Linked DNA regions of Homo sapiens. The protein of the gene in region 2 interacts with the protein of the main gene of each other region in a pairwise test. Each region holds a gene or a part of one and is shown on either strand. Other genes may lie near its edges.

Evidence for each region. Proteins that work in one complex are often made in the same cells at the same time.
Region 1: the proteins of HEXD (region 2) and ADPRS interact in a two-hybrid assay, tested with the Homo sapiens proteins (one large-scale study listed by BioGRID and IntAct).

What each region holds. Positions count from the first base shown.
Region 1 is NC_000001.11:36,091,783-36,094,477, reverse strand, and holds the end of ADPRS (ADP-ribosylhydrolase ARH3), read right to left. Parts: coding exon 2,653-2,695; intron 2,569-2,652; coding exon 2,384-2,568; intron 2,057-2,383; coding exon 1,956-2,056; intron 1,382-1,955; coding exon 1,092-1,381; 3' UTR 546-1,091; downstream 1-545. UniProt on the Homo sapiens protein: ADP-ribosylhydrolase that preferentially hydrolyzes the scissile alpha-O-linkage attached to the anomeric C1'' position of ADP-ribose and acts on different substrates, such as proteins ADP-ribosylated on serine and threonine, free poly(ADP-ribose) and O-acetyl-ADP-D-ribose.
Region 2 is NC_000017.11:82,428,207-82,431,860, reverse strand, and holds part of HEXD (hexosaminidase D), read right to left. Parts: intron 3,609-3,654; exon of another isoform or gene 3,553-3,608; coding exon of another isoform or gene 3,467-3,552; intron 3,304-3,466; coding exon 3,216-3,303; intron 2,428-3,215; exon of another isoform or gene 1,449-2,427; intron 1-1,448. UniProt on the Homo sapiens protein: Has hexosaminidase activity. Responsible for the cleavage of the monosaccharides N-acetylglucosamine (GlcNAc) and N-acetylgalactosamine (GalNAc) from cellular substrates. Has a preference for galactosaminide over glucosaminide substrates.

The sequences.
Region 1 (2,695 bases), on a different chromosome or scaffold from region 2:
GAGGATCGCCTGTGCAATAGAGTGAGACCCCATCTCTAAAAACATGCTGTGTAAAACTTCCTTGCAGGGAAAGGCTTTTGATTGGTCCCAAGATACAGGAGGAGGCACACGGCACTCAGTCCACCCGGGGCCCCGTGATGGTGCCCTCCCCACCCAAAGGTTGGTAGTCTGATGATAGCAGGGCCCTCTGGATCCTTCTACAGGGTTCCTGTTCCTGGCCCAGCTGGGCCTAGCTCCTGTTTGGGGAAGTCAGGCTCTGAGAACAGAAAAATCTGGCTTGTTCCTACCCGCTGCCTCTGGCAAAGCACTCGGCCCAGCAGCCTGGGCCACTTTGAGTGATCTCTAACAGGAAAAGCCACCAGACCATGCCTGCTGTGCCCTTCCTGGCTGAACACGCAGCCAGCTGGAGTGCCTGGCAACACAGCAGCTCATGGCCTTGGGGCCCCAGCTTCTATGACAGTGCAGCACAGACAAAGGCACTAGTCTTCAGAGATCAGGCTGGCAGGGGAGAATCCATTCAGGGCAGGAGAAACAAGAAACAGTGGTGAGATTTACCAAAAACTGTTTATTGCGACTTCCACTGGAAGCTGTTAATAAGCCACATGGCAGCCAAGAGCCAGGTGTGACCTAGATCAGCTGGATGCAAGTGCCTGTCCCTTCATCCACACAACCTGCTGCTCGGGGACCCTGCTAGGATGCGCTTGCTGGCAAACTGGCTAAAACCCAACAGGGAGAAATGATGCTACTGCTCATCATTTCCACCTCCCCACATCCCATGTCCAAGACAATACAGGAAAATGCCACAAGTACCCCTCCAAAATAAACCCGCCTGCGTCTGTCTGTCCTACTGAGGAGCCAGGAGTGTCCTACGGCTCTGCAGCAAACCAGAGACCCAGCACCAGCGAGGCACCAGTCCCTTGCTCGCTGTTCCAGTGACCTCCCCTGCAGAGACCCCAGCCTCACCGGTGTACTCAGTCAGCTCCACAATGCAGGAAAAGTGGGAAGCCACACTCAAGGAAGCGCAGGGTTTCTGATTGGAGCTGTAGTTGGTCCCAGGGGACCTGGCAGAGCCCCAACAGCTGTAGCCCTCATCAACTCTTCTGGAAGACACGGTGCAGGCTTTGGGCCAGGATGTCTGTCTCCTCGTAGCCTTCACAGCTTTGCTGCCAGCTCTCTGGCACCTGATCCATCCCATAGTAGGCACCAGCAATGGCCCCAGCCATGGTGGCAATGGTGTCTGTGTCCCCACCAAGTGAGATGGAATAAATGAGAGTCCTTTGGAGGCTATTGAAGGCAGAAGGGATCTCAGGGTCTGGCTCCATGCAGCGTAGGAAGCAGTAGATGGCGGTGGGTACCGACTCAAAGGCAGCAATGCCATTCCCTGTGGGGAAGCCAGGTTAGAGGGGCTGCATGCTTCCCCAGGCCTCCTACCATTTGACACAAGTCAGCACTCTCGGCTTCAAGCAGGCTGTGACTAAGATCTCAGGCTCTACAGTTAGACCACCTGGGCTCAAATCCTGGCTCCACCACACACTGGCTGCGTGACTGGGAGAGTTACCTAGGGGACCGCTAAGCTTCCTGCTCCCAGATTCAACTCCTTAAGCAGACAGGGAGTAACGTTAGCAACTCTCTGACAGGGCTGTTGTGAGGATGAAGCGAGATCGTGTCTGTGAAGCATTCTGCACAACGCCCAGTATAGATGCTAGACAAATAAAATCCATTATCAACATTTTTACGACTAGTGGCCAGCTGCCATTTCTGGGGACACTGGTCCACAAGGCTGAGGGTGCTGTAGCTTCAGAGCAAGAAGCGCTGAGCTCAACCCTGCCATTGACTCCGTGTCACAGCAGCCCAGGGTACAATGCGACGGCAGGCATGACTCCATGCTCCCCTGAGCCCAAGACCGACCCTGAAGGACGACAGAGGGAGAGACAATCCCAGGCAGACCCACTCACCTAGCTCAGACACCACTTCCTCCCTGGTCACCGATGCCTGGTCTAGAAGCTCTCCAATCTTCTTCAGGCGGCTGGAGTATGGACGCTCCTCCATGCCCAACCTGTGGTTTAGGGGAGATTTCAGGGAGGTCAGAGCTAGCAGGGTGGTGGCGCGGGCAGGGGAGAGGGCTGCATGTGAGAACGAGCAGGGATGTGGTCAGGCTGGCAGCCAGGCACAGGTGCCGACAAGAGGTGGGAGAGGGCTGGGGTGAGCAGGTCGTTTCGTTCTCTGGGACCCTGAGAGCCTTGAAACATAGACAAGATAAAGGGGCTTCTGCCCATGCCTCCCTAGGGTCTGCAATTGAGGAAGGTTTACAGTTTGCGGCAATGCCAGAGGCCCCCTGGATCACCCACATACCCACACCACACACCTCCAGCCCCATACTCACTCCCTGGCATCCAAGACGGACTGGGCATCACCCTCCAGATCCTCCATGTGGCCCAGGAGTTGCTTGAGAAAGTGCTCGCTGGAAGACTCGCCCTGCAAGGCCAGGTGCACAGCCAGGGCCTGCAGGATGGCGCCATTGTAACCCAGGGAGGAGGCGTGTGTCAGCTGGGCCGAGAGCCGGGCAAACTAGGGAGGAGGAGACCTGCTGTCACAGAAGCCCTGCTGCAGAAGAGGAAGGGGACAGCCCAGAAGCCAGCCCGCCCTGAATACCTTCTGCACATCCTGGACACTGCTATAGGCCAGGGAGATGCCA
Region 2 (3,654 bases):
CAGTTCTCAACCAAAAATTTTGAGATGTGCAAATGAACTGGAAAGTAGGATCCAGTTCACAGACTCTGACTCTCAGGGCCCACATGCAGAATTTATCAAATATTTCAAGAAAACTACTATGAATATATTGTAAGAATGAAAGGAGGCCGGGCATGGTGGCTCATGCCTGTAGTCCCAGCACTTTGGGAGGCCGAAGCGGGCAGATCACTTCAGGTCAGGAGTTCGACGAGATCAGTTTGGCCAACATGGCAAAACCCCGTCTCTACTAAGAAGACAAAAATTAGCTGGGTGTGGTGGCGGGCGCTGTAATCCCAGCTACTCGGGAGGCTGAAGCTACTTGGAATGTGGAGTTTGTAGTGAGCTGAGATCACGCCGCTGCACTCCAGCCTGGGTGACAGAGTGAAACTCTGTCTCAAAAAAAAAAAAAAAATTAGCACTTAGGGAGGCAGAGGCGGGAAGATCACCTGAGCCCAGAAGTTTGAGACCAGCCCAGCAACATAGTGAGACCCCACTCTTCACAAAAAGGAAAATGAACAAAAAAAATTAACTCAAAATGGGGCCAGGTGCAATGGCTCATGCCTATAATCCCAGCGCTCCGAGAGGCTGAGGTGGGAGAACTGTTTGAGGCCAGGGGTTCGAGACCAGTCTGGGCAACATAGTGGGACCTGGTATCTGCAAATAATAAAAAAAACTGGCCGGGTATGGTGGCACGCACCTGTGGTCCCTGCTACTCAGGAGGCTGAGGTGCTTGAGCCCAGAAGCTTGAGCCCAGAAGCTCAGGGCTGCAGTGAGCTGTGATTGTACCACGCGCTCCAGCCTGGGTGACAGAGTGAGTCTGTGACTCAAGACAAATAACTTGGATGTTCAAGGGTTCTGGAGAAAGAATAAAAATACCAAACTAAAAATGGATCATAGATCTAAATGAAAAATGCACAGAAGTTAAACTTTAGAAGAAAATACAAGAAAAATCTTTGTGATCTGGTGATCACAAAGAGTTTTTAGAAATGACACCAGAAGCATGTAGCTCTACACTGGGGGAGAATACCTGCAAATTACATACCATCAGAGGACTTGCATCTAGAACATATAAAGAACTTTAAAAACTCAAGTTGAAAAAAAAAATGGGCAAAACACCTGAGCAGTTATTTCTAGTATACCAAGAGGGTATACTGGGCTGGGCACCGTGGCTCACGCCTGTAATCCCAGTACTTTGAGAGGCCGACGCAGGCGGATCGCCTGAGGCCAGGAGTTTGAGACTAGCTTGGCCAACATCTTGAAACCTCATCTCTAATAAAAAGATAAAAAGTTAGCCGGGCATGGTGGGGTACACCTGTAATCTCAGGTGCTCAGGAGGCTGAGGCAGGAGAATCACTTGAACTCGGAAGCAGAGGTTGTAGTGAGCCAAGACTGCACCACTACACTCCAGCCTGGGAAACAGAGTGAGACCCTGTCTCAAAAACAAACACACAAAAAGGGTATACTAATAGTAAATGTACACATGGAGGGTCTTCCTCAGTAAGAAACCAACCCTTCGACACGCTGATTTTGGATGTCTGGTCTCCAGGGCTGAGAGAACATTTCTGTTGTCTTAAGCCACCTGGTTTGTGGCGATCACTTCTGCCCTGACAGCAGTGTCCTTTGAGGAGATGGCGAGTGTGAGTGGTCAGGGCTGTGCTGTGACTTGCTGTGGTGGGGAGAGGGGCACGGAGGGGCAGAGTGGCCCCGGGAGACCCATTAGGAAAGTTTCATGGTGAGTCCATAGTGGTTTAGACAGGGGTGGTGCCTGCATGACAGAGGAAGAGGAGGAGGAGCAGCAGCAGGACCAACATGGGTCAGGGCGTGGCGGGTGGTGGTGCTGACTGTGGCTGGTCTGCTTCTGGTTTGCACACCAGAGGCTGGAGGAGGGCCCTCAATGGAAGCGACCAGCAGGCAGCTGGGGATGAGGGTCTGTAACCCAGGAGGTCTGGAGTTGCTGAGGTGCAGACAGAAGAGGAAGAGGAAGACGAAGAGGAGGACAAAGAGAAAGCAGGAGCAGAAATGGCACCATCTAGAGAGAGAGTGGGAGGTGGGGACAGGGACCGAGAGGAGCCCTGGGGACCGCCAGCTACAGAGAGACAAATGCAAATGGATATCGAGGAGGTGCAGTCAGAGGCAGAGGGAAGCCAGAAAGTGTGGGGCTCAGGAGAGCGGCTGGGGATGCCAGAAGCTACCGAGGGGCCCAGCAGGAAAGGACTAAAACCGTCCCTGGACTTAGTGACCTGGAGGACCCTGGCGGCCTTGGCAGAGACATTCTGTGGATACGTGGCAGGAGGCTAAGAGCGCAGGCCGGGTCCCAGAGCAGAGTACGATGGAGAGAATCAACTAGAAAGGCTGGAGGACCGAGCTGTGGGAAGGAACTCCGGTGGCACGCCCAGAACACCGACATGTGTAAGTGAAAACAACCTTCTTACCCGCGGTGTGTGGAAATAGAAGCCAGAATGGTGTATCTGTTAGAGAAATAAATGGAACCTAAGAGCCATTAAATCGGTGTGGTGGTTAATGCCGCATCACTTCCTGTTTGATGCAGACAGGAAAAAGAATATGTGTATATATATATTTTTTGAGACGGAGTCTTGCTCTGTCACCCAGGCTGGAGTGCAGTGGTGCGATCTTGGCTCATGGCAACCTCTGCCTCCTGCGTTCAAGTGATTCTCCTGCCCCAGCCTCCCGAGCAGCTGGGACTACAGGTGCCCGCCACCATGCCTGGCTAATTTTTGTATTTTTAGTAGAGACGGGGTTTCGCCATGTTGGTCAGGCTGGTCTCGAACTCCTGACCTCAGGTGATCCACCAGCCTCGGCCTCCCAAAGTGCTGGGATTACTACTGGTGTGAGCCACCGCACCTGGCCTGAAAAGCACCTTTTCTTTCCCTAATACTGTGTTTTACCTCACATAATAATATTCTGATGAATACAAGTGAAAAAGGAAACTGCCTCCAGGACCCCTTTTCTGGCTCTTTCCTTCCATTCCTCAGGCAGACAGGCAGCCCCAACCTGCAGCTCTGGCCGAGTCAGGCAGGGACTTCCTAGACCAAAGGCCTTTCCATGTTGTGCTGAGCTGCGCTGCCTGCACCCCAACCATGGGCCCGCTGCACCCACCCCTGGGCACAAGCCTGGCCCAGCCTGCAGCCCCTGGACCCCACACCTGGCACCAGGTAACTTCCATTTCTGCCACTCACCTCCATGTGTCCAAATGTCTGCACCAAGGGAATCACCTCCAGCTCATTGAGTCCAGCCAGATGCAAGATCTCTTTGATTTCAGAGGGGCTGGAGAGACAAAATTCATAGAGAGAGGGTCATGTGAGCAGCACGTGACTTCCACACCCACCCCCCCAGCCCTTCCTCATCAGGCCCTGGGGGGCTCTCCGGGAAACAGTAAGGCCCTAAACTCCACAAAGCTTGACAGGTATCCTGATTTCTGGAAAGGTACCTGCTCCAAAATTTGGGAAGATGATGTTCTAGCACGTCCTCAAGTAATGGTTCGCTTTTCAACCCACGACAAGAGAATGAAGTCATCACATTTTACAAGAAACTACTCAAGGCCAGGCACAGTGGCTCACGCCTGTAATCTCAGCACTTTGGGAGTCCAAGGCCAGCAGACCACTTGAGGTCAGGAGT